Linked DNA regions of Homo sapiens: regions 1, 2 and 3 are each reported to be linked to region 4. Evidence: microRNA targets listed by miRTarBase, many of them from high-throughput screens and not tested one by one. Region 4 holds a microRNA gene; each other region holds the end of a gene's coding sequence.
Evidence for each region. Region 4 holds the annotated microRNA hsa-miR-519c-3p (AAAGUGCAUCUUUUUAGAGGAU, at 1,524-1,545, opposite strand). A microRNA usually pairs through its seed, bases 2 to 8, with sites in the 3' UTR of a target mRNA and lowers its output. Matches are read on the target gene's strand: a 7mer-m8 pairs with bases 2 to 8, a 7mer-A1 pairs with bases 2 to 7 and ends in A, and an 8mer does both.

Region 1: the mRNA of ICMT is a reported target of hsa-miR-519c-3p. Seed matches in the 3' UTR shown: 7mer-m8 at 787-793 and 7mer-A1 at 602-608.
Region 2: miRTarBase lists CAMSAP2 as a target of hsa-miR-519c-3p. Seed matches in the 3' UTR shown: 7mer-m8 at 2,626-2,632.
Region 3: miRTarBase lists FCHO2 as a target of hsa-miR-519c-3p. Seed matches in the 3' UTR shown: 7mer-m8 at 825-831.

Annotation. Positions count from the first base shown.
Region 1 is chr1:6,222,371-6,225,529 of GRCh38, forward strand. ICMT (isoprenylcysteine carboxyl methyltransferase) reads right to left here. Exons shown (of 5, transcript NM_012405.4): 5 at 1-2,892. The coding sequence ends at 2,710. Among named protein-coding and RNA genes, the nearest start is that of ICMT, 12 kb to the right of the region's middle.
Region 2 is chr1:200,857,547-200,860,731 of GRCh38, reverse strand. It overlaps CAMSAP2 (calmodulin regulated spectrin associated protein family member 2), which reads right to left. Exons shown (of 17, transcript NM_203459.4): 17 at 28-2,978. The coding sequence ends at 2,673. Among named protein-coding and RNA genes, the nearest start is that of GPR25, 14 kb to the left of the region's middle.
Region 3 is chr5:73,087,776-73,090,960 of GRCh38, reverse strand. FCHO2 (FCH and mu domain containing endocytic adaptor 2) reads right to left here. Exons shown (of 26, transcript NM_138782.3): 26 at 439-2,893. The coding sequence ends at 2,871. Among named protein-coding and RNA genes, the nearest start is that of TMEM171, 31 kb to the left of the region's middle.
Region 4 is chr19:53,684,882-53,688,066 of GRCh38, reverse strand. It overlaps MIR519C (microRNA 519c), which reads right to left and starts at 1,598; the gene lies at 1,512-1,598. MIR515-2 (microRNA 515-2) reads right to left here and starts at 3,058; the gene lies at 2,976-3,058. The region is part of intron 2 of LOC107985342 (a long non-coding RNA gene); the gene reads right to left.

The DNA of each region.
Region 1 (3,159 bases), not on the chromosome of region 4:
CGAAATGGTGCCACTGCACTCCAGCCTCCAGCCTGGGCCACAGAGCAAGACTGTCTTAAGAAAATAAAAAAAATGGAGTTCATCTTTTATCCCTAAGTAATTGCTGACTTCTGCTCTGGGATTATAAACAGGGTGGGAATGTTCTCCCACCATCCCTACCCCTGGAATTCCTCTCCAAAGCAGAGTACGTCAAGTTTTCCCTGGTGTCAGACAGCATTTCACCATGAAACCCTAAGACCTGCCTCCTGGGCTCCTTCCAGCTGGTGGGCCTGGTGTGAAGGTGGGCTTCCTGGGCCTCTGGCAGATGGAGGATGGCATTAAATGCCAACACAGTCAGCTTACCATCCACAAGGCCAGCAGCTGCCAACAGCTGCCCTAGACCTATCAACAAGACAACTTCATGGCTCCCAATGGGAATGGAGGCTGGGCCCGCCCTACTTAGAGCAGGGGAAAGAACTTTTCCCTCAAAGAGCCGGGGCAGGATGCCAGAATCTAACTACATCCTCTCCCGGTTTGCAGTTCTAGGAAGTGGAATTTGCTGCCCTAGGCGTGGTCTAAAGGACAAGTTTAGAAATGATTCAACTCAAGTTCCTAAACAGAGTAAGTGCCAGTTGATGTCCCACCGTGGATCCTTTACTCCAGAAAAATTGTAATGATGGCTCGGCCACCGCCTTGGCTAGAGTCCCACTGCACGCGTGTCGTGAGGGCCGATGGGCAAGTCCGTCCGGTTTTTTTTGTTGTTGTTGTTGTTTTTTGAGATGGAGTCTCGCCCTGTTGCCCAGACTGAAGTGCAAAGGCCCGATCTCAACTCACTGCAACCTCCGCCTCCTGGGTTCAAAGGATTCTCCTGTCTCAGCCTCCTGAGTAGCTGGGATTACAGGCACCCGCCAGCACGCCCAGCTATTTTTTTGTATTTTTAGTAGAGACGGGGTTTTATCATGTTGGCCAGGCTGGTCTCGAACGCCTGACCTCATGATCCACCCGCCTTGGCCTCCCAAATTGCTGGGATTACAGGCGTGAGCCACCGCGCCCGGCCGTCTGTCTGGTTTTCAAACCAATCAATGAACCCGTAAGCCTCTTTGGTATATATAACAATGAAAAAATTCATTAAGCCATGAAATCTAGAAATAAGTCATATTTCTGAGTTGATAAAATGCTTTTCTGAACATACATTTTAGGTATCTGGCACAATTAACCAAATGTCTGCCCATTTTTGTGTAGCTTTCATACAGTACAGATTTCATTGATGTCGCTCCCACATCTGAGTATTAAAAACATTTGACATTGTTCTTCTCAGTCCTCACAACACCCCTGTGAGGTAGGTGGTATTGACCCCATTCCACAGATGGGGAGGTCTAGGCACGGAAAGGTTTAGTGGCTCCTCACAGGCCGCGTGGTGGGGCAGCAGAGTGGTGCTCTGGCCCCGCGCCGACGCCGCCTTCACATTCACACTTCTTCAGTGCCACCGCAACACTGCATGGCAGGATCTCACGCTGAGGCCAAGTTCCTGTCTAGTCCAGAATGAAGCCAGCGTCTCACCTCTTAAAGCTTCGATGTGTGACTCAAAGCCAACTTACTCTCCCAAACTTGCAAAACAAACATACTGACTGAATCTTAGTTGGGACTATTTGCAGTATTTAAGATTATTTTTGAGAGTCAATCTGCTTGGATTTGTAGTTGTATATGCTCAAATCCCTTTGGAAAACAGTTTGAAATGACATGAGGGACAATGTAATTTTGAGAACAGAACACAGAAAACAAGAGTTCTGAGACTGGCATTGAAATTGAGAATATAAGCTATGGTAAAATGAGAATCAAATCCCAAATAAACGGAGAGCAGCACTTCTCAATGTTTAAGGCCACGCACAGGGCAGGCATTCAGTAAGCACTTCTTGGATCAAAAGAAACTGATGCTCCTTTGAGCCGCCTATCACTGACAACAGGAGCTGAGACCCCCGGGAAAGCCAGCCAGGGCCATGATCCCCTTGGCCTGGGGCCACGGTCACACAAAGCCACTCAGCCAAATCGTGTAGAGTTATCTAGGCTTACTTGCTGCAGGATAAAAGTTGAACTAGAACACCAAGCATTGAGCTAGGAATACCCCTTTGAATGTGTACTGCTACTTATAAAAAATAGGTATGTAGCTATGATTAAATAGATGAAGGGCCAAAGCATCCTATGAGGAAGTATTTTTAAAATTGTATAGATGTTCATGCAGTGGGGGACAGAAATAAAGAGGTTAAAGCGGTCTGTGTTTTTCGGTTAAATGAAAGGTTGTAAATGCATTTTTACCGCTGATAAGAAGGGGTACCTGCTACCCCTTTCTGCTGTGGAGTGTTGCTGAGGACAGAGTCCATCTCTCCCAGCGAGTCCTGGTTATCCTTTACTTACACTCTGGCCTCGGGGGCAGTGGCGTGTGGCCTCGGTCCTCCCCAGGTAACTCTGGAGGGCGCTGTGGAATATTGCTGTGATTTGCCCCTTACTCGTCTTTCACCCATGTTCCGCCTTGATTCGGCATAAGGACAGACTGCTCCAGTGGGGCCTTGGGTCCTCAGGCCTTCTGACCGCTTGGTCTTGAGTGACATTCCAGAAGAGTGACTAATGACATAAAACGATTAAGAAAATCCATGTGGCAGCGGCCAACCGGAAACAGTTTTGTCCCAGGCTGCACAGGGTCGGAGGCCCCAAGGTCACCGGGGCCACTGCCCGTCACAGGTCCACCTTGACCCCCTTTATGAAAGGCAGGCCCGTGGGCACCCTCTTCTTATACTCCAGGTACTCCTCTCCAAAAAAGTGAATTAGTGAGATTTCTTCTTCTTCTGTTCGATCGCGGAAGAATCGCCACACTGTCAGGGCATAGCTGACGCCGCAGATGGGGTTACACAGCATCACCTAACAGAGGGAGACACCAGGCTCATCAGGGTGACCGTGGGATGACGCCCTGTGCTTTGGTAGGCGTCTGTCTCTAATACCCAGAGGATTTCTGTGCCCATGCCCTGCTGAGACCGTCAGGGTCTCTGGGAGCAGTACTGTCACCTTAGCCCTGAGCACTCAGTGCTGCAGGCCTTTCTCACGTGCTTTCCTGTTGCTCCTCTTACATGAGAGAGATCTGTAAATCACAAGATCAACCTCTTGGATTTCAACCCTCAGCTTGGGGTG
Region 2 (3,185 bases), not on the chromosome of region 4:
TTTATTCAAGAAACAGAAAAGGAGTCATTTGGTGCCATGCTTTTATTCAAATGAAAGGGGAAAAACTACACTGTACCAGGAAATAGCAAGTATGACAGTATTTTACAGCACAGCATCTTAAAAAACAAAAAACCTGTAAGCAATGCTCTAGAGTGGACAGGTAAGCACACCATACACTGTACATTGCTCAACAGTGTCCATGAAACCATAATTAAATAGCTGAATTTGGCTTTAAACAGCCAAATAAAACTGTAACAGTCATTCTAATACAAAACGGAAAAACCAAGAACTAAATCTTTCCAAAGCTGTGTCAAATAGCAGAATTTGACAGGCTGCACTGGTAACCACGACAAATGTTTGGCAAACTTAATGGAATAGTTATCATAATAATTTGACCTCTGATGATGAAAGCACCAGTGTGTTTCAGTAAGGTTGACGAAAATCCTCAGACTTTATGAAATGGCATATTTTTCAACTGTATAATTTTAAAAACATAATTAAAAAAAAGCTGCACCATAATAAAAAAATCTGCAGACTTAAAGAAATATATCCATATTCCTTCTGCATTAATAAAGTAAAATCTTATACTGAGAGCAATGAACTCTGTGGCAATATTCACATTCTACCTTTAGACCTTATAGACATTCAATTCAACTGTTGGACACACACAAATTTAAGAATAAAGGGTGGTCCTGTTTAGTTTTAAAGTTTCTCCATTGTCTTGCATCCAATTTTCTTTATTTAATAGCGAAGTAATATCACAAAGATTGCTTTGATGAGGGAAATTTAGTTAATATTGAAATGAACAAATTTAGTAACGTAAAATGCTTATTAAATTATCCTTTTGACTACTATTCACATTTTGATTAGATTCATTTATAATTTTTTAAACTAGTTTTAATCTAAACGTGTATTTGACTATCATTTCCTTCTAACTGTGATAGAAATTACTGTCCAAAAGGTAAAATGTGCAATTCCCCATTTTTAATATCCATATGTTATATACACAATATGTATACACTTAAAATATAAGAGTTACATATCCTGGTCTCTTACATGCAAACAGTAGATCACAAATAGTTTTGAGCTACACATGTATCTTGCACAGGTATTGGAAAAAAATCTGTGAAATTTTTTTACAGTTTTAACAAATATACATAAATATAAGAACATAAATTACAGTAAAATATTGACAGCATTTGAGAAAATGTTGATAACCCAGATGCACTGATGCCTAAAGGCCTTATAATAATAGAAAAGTACAGCTCAGGGACATCTCATTCCTATTCTTTTTTTTAAAATAAGTAAATACATCATATGAGACATTAGTTCTTTCTCTAAACAACTCAATTAGAGAAATGTATATATTTTTATCTCTACTTCCCATGAAAGAAAACAAACTACGCATCTCATTTATGATACAATACTGTCTTCCCCCGCTAGTTTACACATTTGTCACAACACTGAAATATAACAGGGTCACATAATCATTCAAGTCTTTTCCTGAGAATGAAGTTTTTCCCCAACTAACCCTCTGGTATACACTGTTAAAGAACAAAGATCATGTAGAGGAGATTTCAAGTGTATACTTATTCTAAGCCATTCCACTTGAAAAGGATTAAAATGAAGAAAAACCCAATATAAGTAAAATAATGTGAAGCTATTTTAAAATTAAAATGTAGCCCTTTGTACATGTTTAAAAATTCTAAATATAATTTTTATATGAGTTATAAATATAATGTAAAGACTTCTTGAGAACTTGTTTCAGGAAGTCTTACATCTTCAGATTGAAAGACTACTCTCAAAGTGTCATTCACTTCTGCCAACTTATAAAGTGACTTACTTTAAAAGAGATAGAAAGCCTTTTTTGTTAAAAGAACAATCTAAATTATTCTGAGTTGGCCAGAAGTGGTGTAAAAACAGCACTGATTTAATCAGCAACTTCTCATAACATATTCTTGGTTAAGCTCATGTGGTTTAAAGCGAACCTACTAGCAGCTCTTTACAACACCTCCTCTTATTTAATAGAGAATGTTAATACTTGAGTGAATAATAAATAGAGTTGTAAATACTTAGCAGAATAATTTTTGCAAATGCTGTAACACCATTAAAATATGAGGGTTACTGTAAAACTAAACACTAGTGTTTCTCTTAACATCATAAGAAAGGTGCGAGTTACTTCTAAAGGTATATTTCCTACTTTCATGATCTCCACATGAAATAAAATACAAAGGTATCTTAGAATAAACCCCCAGGAGAGAAAAATAGCAAACCATCTGAAGACAAGAATATACATTAAAAGGTTAAAAAAAAGCAACAAATAAAACACATAATTTGTAATCTTAACCATATTTCAATGATAAATCCAACTAATATCCATGAAAATTCAGTGCTTTAATGTATCTAATATCAAGCAGGTGAACCTGATAACACATACAAATCTCCATTTGTGAATTAAAACATTTCCTTCATCATTTGGACTTATCACTTAATTGAGAATGTTCTGCACTCCAAAATACTGTGGTTTACATTCCAGTTGTTCATGACAACAGAGCTTAATGTCCAGTTTTAATTAATAAAAGTCTTGTTGGCAATTAGAAAGATTTTCTATAGGCAGGAAAGATGAAGTGCAAATTTACCATGAATGTTCTGAAGCAAGTATTTCCCAACTTCTATGCCTTAGTGGGTAAAAGTTTTTTGGGTGTTACTGGTCTTTTGGTCTGCCATAAATGGCTATGAATGGTAATTGCATCAACACTGGCAGATAAAGTTTTAGCGGGTATGTGGCTAAACTGTTTCCTGTCAGAATTATATTTGTAAAGTCCTTCAATCATTTTTTTAGTGATAGATTTAGGGCCTATCCCAGTCAGTTTATTGATTTCTTCAGTTTCTGGGCAATAAGTGTATAAAGATCTGAACTGGCATCCTGAATCCCGGAACAAGATTAAGAAGTTGTTGGCATCTGATTTCTCCATTTCCTTTAAAATAAAAAACAAAAACAACATAACAACACGAATAAAAACCCTTTATTTTGCTGAATAAAGTTTATATAATTATGTTACGTTTCTTAGTCACATTTTATAACATTATTTCAATGACAAATCTTAAAGCCTATTGCTAGTCTTTAATAAAATCTGCAGGCTTCCAGAACCTAATGTGAAAATAAACTAAATCTGATAATTAAA
Region 3 (3,185 bases), not on the chromosome of region 4:
TGCGCCACTGCACCCAGCCCAAAATTTTCAATAGTTAGGATAAATTCTTTCTTTTCTAATTTCCTTCTTTTGCTCCTTCCTAAATTTACCATTTTGGGAGGCTTGATTGTCTTAACTAATTCTTTGGAACATTATGATTTTTGAACTGTCTGAGACTGTGTTCCTGAGCAACTGGTTAGGAAGAAAGTCTGCAAAAATTTAACATCAATTTAAATATATCTTAAAATATATTAAAAATAATCCCTTGTTAAACAATTTTGACACTTTGGGATATACTCCAAATGAAGCTTTCTATATAACCAATAAATAACAGTTCGATCTGTACGCCTGTTCAAACAGTAGTACAAAGTTAAAAACCAATTACTTGGCCAGCTTGCCTTGTCCTAACATTATGATATAGCTATTACTATCAAGTACAAAGACACATAAACCAATTGATAAATTATATATTACATGTTTATTAAGAGCACAACTTTTATGTAAAATTTACATTTAATGAAAAAAATCAAAAATATTTACAAAATCTTGGAAGACAGATGTGCATTGTTCTAATTACAATCCAAAGTAGTAAATAACAATCCTTTAAAACTCACATTTATTAGAGTTGTGTTTACAAATTCTTGGTTAAAGAGGCAGCTACAAAGTTTATCACTATATATAAGCAAGAACCAGCTTGCTAGGTACATTTCCCATTGAAAATCTACTGGTCTCTTTTACACCATTAGTGGATTTTTAAATGGAAAAAAAAAATCAATATAAACTCATATGGCTTCAAAATTGTAACCTGTACCCAATACTTGGTATGAAGACTGTGGTAACTAAGAAAGTGCAGAAGTTTAACCATTTCACTAATTTGTACATTTTTAGGTAATATTTGATTAAAAACAAACACGGTAAGAACAGTGTCTGAATTCCAATAATAAAATATTGGCTGCCCTAAAAGCAGTTTGATTGCAAAGCAAATTACAGTTAGAATTCCAGTAAGGGACTGTAATTGGCATTTAAAAGAGCACAATATAAGAGTTAGAAATTCTAATTTAGCTCACTATTTAGTAAAGATTAGCATTTTAGCAAATTATCTTATGTGCTGCTTTAGTCAAATGTAAATTCAGACTTGGGCTAACATTGAATATATAAAAAAGCATATACTGTGTTATATATTGCTAAAGAGTAGATTTTCTGCTGTATTTAGTACAGCAAGATGTTACATAAATGTCTAGTAATAGAGGTTTTATTTTCTGTGAAGCTTAACGGAACAATTAGTGGTTTTATATAAATTATCATATATAACACAATTTATCACTTCTACTAGGCAAATAAAGGACACTCATATTTATTATTATAAATGAAATTCCCATTTGTAAATTATGAAACCTTATCCGAAATATTTTATTTCTTCAATTAATCAAGATTTGCTACTAAAGTTAGGTTTCTTACTATTTAGTATTGGTAGTTTATTTTTAGAAATGTTTAACCAAATATATCACTTCAAATAATTTCCCTATTTTTACAAAGTAGAAATTGAATAATTAAAATGTACAAATTGGTAATTTTTCCAATTGTTGAAATAAAAACAAATGGCAGTGCTTCTCCTTCTGTTTCCAAAATTAATCTTTTAAAAAATGCATCCCTCACAAAATACCATAAAACTCATGTTCACAACACAATCAGTAAATAAATGCATAAATTTTCAATGATAAAGTATCAAGGAAAATGCTAAATTGAGAGTTAAAATACCAGTTACCAATTTAGCACTATAGTTTTTTTAGAATTTGTTTTAAAATTCACACACTTTTGATGAGGTTAATGTCAAGTATCTGAAGGTAATCTTTCTTCCTGTAAACACATGCCATTGGGTTTATTTCTCTTTCTAGTGGCTACAGTGTATCACCAAAGAAGTGAGCCAGGATTCTTAAGTTAGGCTTTATGACTCTGAATCCCCTTCCCAGTTGCAGGCCAAAAATATTTACAAAAATTGCAAATATCTTATAAAAATGCTTGATCACTGTAAGATTCTGAACAGAAGATTCAGACTGAGAAAAAAAGTGAGGCACATTAATGAACACAAATTGTATAGGCACATCTCTGGTTTTTGTTATTGTTTTAAAAGGCACACATTATGCAATTCCATATAAAAATAAATTAAATCTACAGCATTAATTCATCAAAAAAATCACAACTCCTATAAAGTTAACTAACTGCAGAAGTAAATGTCTCTGCTGTCATTTGCAAGCTTATTTTAAAACACATTGCACTTGAGAATTTTTTTTAAAAATCATATAAAACATCACTTATACTTTATTAATATGTTTATGAGAATCAAATTATAGATTTTTTGCATACAACTTGGACTCTGGTCTGATTACCTTATGGCACATAGCTCAATTTGATTAAGTGTTCTGAGTTAACATTACCCAAAACTTAGAATTCATGTTCTATTTGTATCCACTGAATATCAAACTTATGAAATTTCAAAGTTATCTCTGACTCTAAAAATGTATGGAAAGCTAAATTACTTTGTGCTTGCTCTTCTGAAACTTTAGGCCTGATATTACACTATAACCCTTTTTTTCAACATAGACACTGGAAATAATTTAAAAATTAATCCTACAAAAACTTCATTTTTACTGAGAATCTGAATAAATGTGCTTCCTGAATATTGTAGTTGATCATTTACAACATAGAGAATCATTTCAGTACTATTTATTTCAATGACTCACTTTAAAAGTGCGATTTAATGTTTGTAGTCAGCTCTCAAATATGTCTAAGTTTGAAAGACATCATACAAGTTAAAATAGTGTTTGGAAAGAACAGATAATGCAGAATGGCAGGTTTGTAATCCCTGAAGCCACATCACTTTCCCAGGTCCATCAACAATCCGCCAGGTATCGTCCTGAAAAACGCCAAGCAGACCTTTGCAATTACAATTTCAAATGCACTCTAAGGACATTTTCCACTGTGGTTACCAATACAAAACTCTAGTTCCCATCTGCTATTTACAGTACATTAGAATCAGATAACAGGTGTTCAGCTATACTGACCGTAAGAACTCTCTCCCAGGTGTGTCTCTACCTGGCACCTTGTACCAAGGGTTAAAGAAAAAATTTCCATGTCTTTAGATTATAAATTGCTTGACAGTTTTTTAATAACTGTTAGAATACAAATGTTTCCCATGTACATTAAAA
Region 4 (3,185 bases):
CCAGGATAGACCACAGGCTAGGTGGTAAAAGCTCCTCAATAAAATTTGAACAGGAATACACAAGTACCAGTTGGGTGTGGTGGCTCATACCTCTAATCCCAGCACATCAGGAGGCCAAGGCAGGAGATTCACTTGAGCTCAGGAGCTCAAGACCAGCGTGTACAACACGGTGAAACCCTGTCTGTAAAAAAATACAAATGTAGGCCAGGTGTGGTGGTACATGCCTGTAGACACTAATTCAGGAGGCTGGGGTGGGAGGCGAAGGTTGCAGTGAGCCAAGACTGAAACACTGCACTCCAACCTGGGCGACTGAGCCAGATCTTGTTGCAAAAAAAAATTTAAAAGAACACACAAGCAAAAACCACCCCAAAGTGATATCAGTCATCTCTGTGTGTAGAAGAGTATTTTTTGTGTATATAATTATATATATGGCTATATGATGAAATATACATCATATATAATATATATATACACACAAACACACCCATATATATATTTTTTTTTTTGAGACAGAGTCTCTCTCTCTATATAAATATATATGTATATATATATTTTTTTTTTGAGACAGTCTTATTCTCTCGCCCAGGCTGGAGTGTGGTGGCGTGATCTTGGCTCACTGCAACCTCCATCTGTCCGTTCAAGTGATTCTCCTCCCTCAACTTCCCCAGCAGATGGGAATACAGGCGTGCGCCACCATAGCTGGCTAATTTTTTGTATTTTTAGTAGAGACAGGGTTTCACCATGTTGGTCAGGCTGGTCTCAAACTCCTGACCTCAAGTGATCCACTCGCCTCAACCTGCCAAAGTGTTGATATTGCAGGCATGAGCCACCGCTCATGTCGTATACACACAAAAACTGCTCATATACTCATGCGCCTGGCTGTACATCATTTATTTTCCAGACCCTATCTCAAAAAAAAAGAAAGTTCCATATACTGTATGCTCACATAAAGAATTACTCCTACACATAAATGTTTGCTCCACACATAAGAAATGAATGGAGTGACAGAGATCACCATGGCCCCTGTGCAGAGGTGATGCCCAAATTCATGATGGGTCTCATATTGAAAATTAAGATCAAAGGCCGGGTGCAGTGGTTCATGACTGTAAACCCAGCACTTTGGGAGGCCGAGGCAGGTGGATTACGAGGTCAGGAGATGGAGACCATCCTGGTCAACACGGTGAAACCCCATCTCTGCTAAAAATACAAAAATTAGCCGGGCGTGGTGGCATGGGCCTGTACTCCCAGCAACACAGGAGACTGAGATGGGAGAACCACTTCAACCCGGGAAGGGGAGATTGTAGTGAGCAGAGATCGTGACCCTGCAAAGAGGACCACCTGAGCCCAAGAGAGCTAGGTTGGAAGTGCCACTGCTCTCCAGCCTGGGCAAAAGAGACCCCGTCTTAGAAAACAAACAAACCAGGAACAAAAGCCCACCCTCATCCAAGTCTGATGATAAGCACGCTCTGCAAATGTATTGCCGAGATCAGCATGAACGTTAACGTTGCTTTTCTCAAACTGTAATCCTCTAAAAAGATGCACTTTCTTTTCTTTCAGACAACAGAAAGCGCTTCCCTCTAGAGGGTCACAGGCTGAGATCTTCTTGCTCCAGCACCATTGATTTTTTGTTGGAATTTTCCTTGACCAGGTTAAAATGGACACAAAAATAAAGATGCATTTATTGGCCCTGTTTGCATGATTTCTGGAATCCAGAACATAAACCCCTATCAGGGCCATCTCCAGTTCCTTGTTTCAAAAAGCAATGCCGACTATACATACCTTATATTTAACCATGAGAATTGGGCTGGATTCTAGAGAACAGCAATAGATTTTGAGCTAAGTGTTCACTCGAGTTCCAGTACAGTGACACACAGTCCCGACGGGGGCATCCAAAATGGAATCTACGATGTTGAAGAATATGCATTGTCACACACACAAACACCCTCCAGGAGAGACCACAGGCCAGGCTGTAAAAGCTCCTCAATAAAATGAGCAGAAACACACAGGTACAGGTGAGGTGTGGTGGCTCACACCTCTAAACCCAGCCCTTTAGGAGGCTGAGGCAGGAGTATCACTTGAGTTCAAGAGTTTGAGACCAGCCTGGGCAACATGGTGATACCTCATGTGTAGAGAAAACAGAAAAGTTAGCCGGGCGTGGTGGTGTGCGCCTGTAGACAGCTACTCAAGAGGCTGAAGTGGCAGGTGGAGGTTGCAATAAGCTGAGATGGCACCACTGCACTCTAGCCTGGGTGACAGACCCAGACCTTATCTAAAAAAAAAACAAAAACATACACACACAAACAAAAAATTACCCAAAGTGATACGAGAGTATTCTCTGTGTATAGAAGAGTGTTTTGTGTGTATATGACTATGTTACATGTATAATAAGAATATGATAAAATATATATTTTTGAGACCGTACATCAATAAAAATTAAGTTCCATATACTATGTGCTCACATGAAAAATAATTCCTACACATATGTGCTTGCATTGGCAGCACACATTAAAAAAAATTGGAGGCTAGGCTGGGTGGCTTACACCTATAATCTCAGCATTTTGGGAGGCTGAGGCAGGCGGATCACCTGAGGTCAGGAGTTGGAGACTAACCTGGCCATCATGATGAAACTGCATCTCTGCTAAAAATGCAAATATTAGCCAGGCGTCGTGGCACGTGCACCTGTAATCCCATCTACTTGGGAGGAGAGGTTGCAGTGAGCAGATAACATGCCACTGCGCTCAAGCCTGGGCCAGAGACAGAGACTCTGTTTCAAGAAAAAAAAAAAAAGCAAGCACGGGACCACTTGAGCCCAAGAGATCTAGGTTGGAAGCGCCACCGCACTCCAGCCTGGGCAACAGAGACCCCATGATGCAAAACAACTAAACAAAAACAGAACCCCAACATCATGCAAGTCTGATGATAAGCACGCTCTGCAAATGTGTTACCAAGATCAGCATCAACTTCAACGTGGTTTTTCTCAAACAGTAACGCTCCAAAAGAAGGCACTCTGCTTTCAGACAACAGAAAGTGCTTTCTTTTGGAGAATGACTGCATGAGATCTTCTCGCTCCAAAAGTCTGGGTTTTTTGACGGAATTTTCCTCACCTGGTTAAAATGGACACAAAAATAAAGATACATTTATTGACTCTCTCTGCATGTTTTCTGGAATCCAGAATATAAACCCCT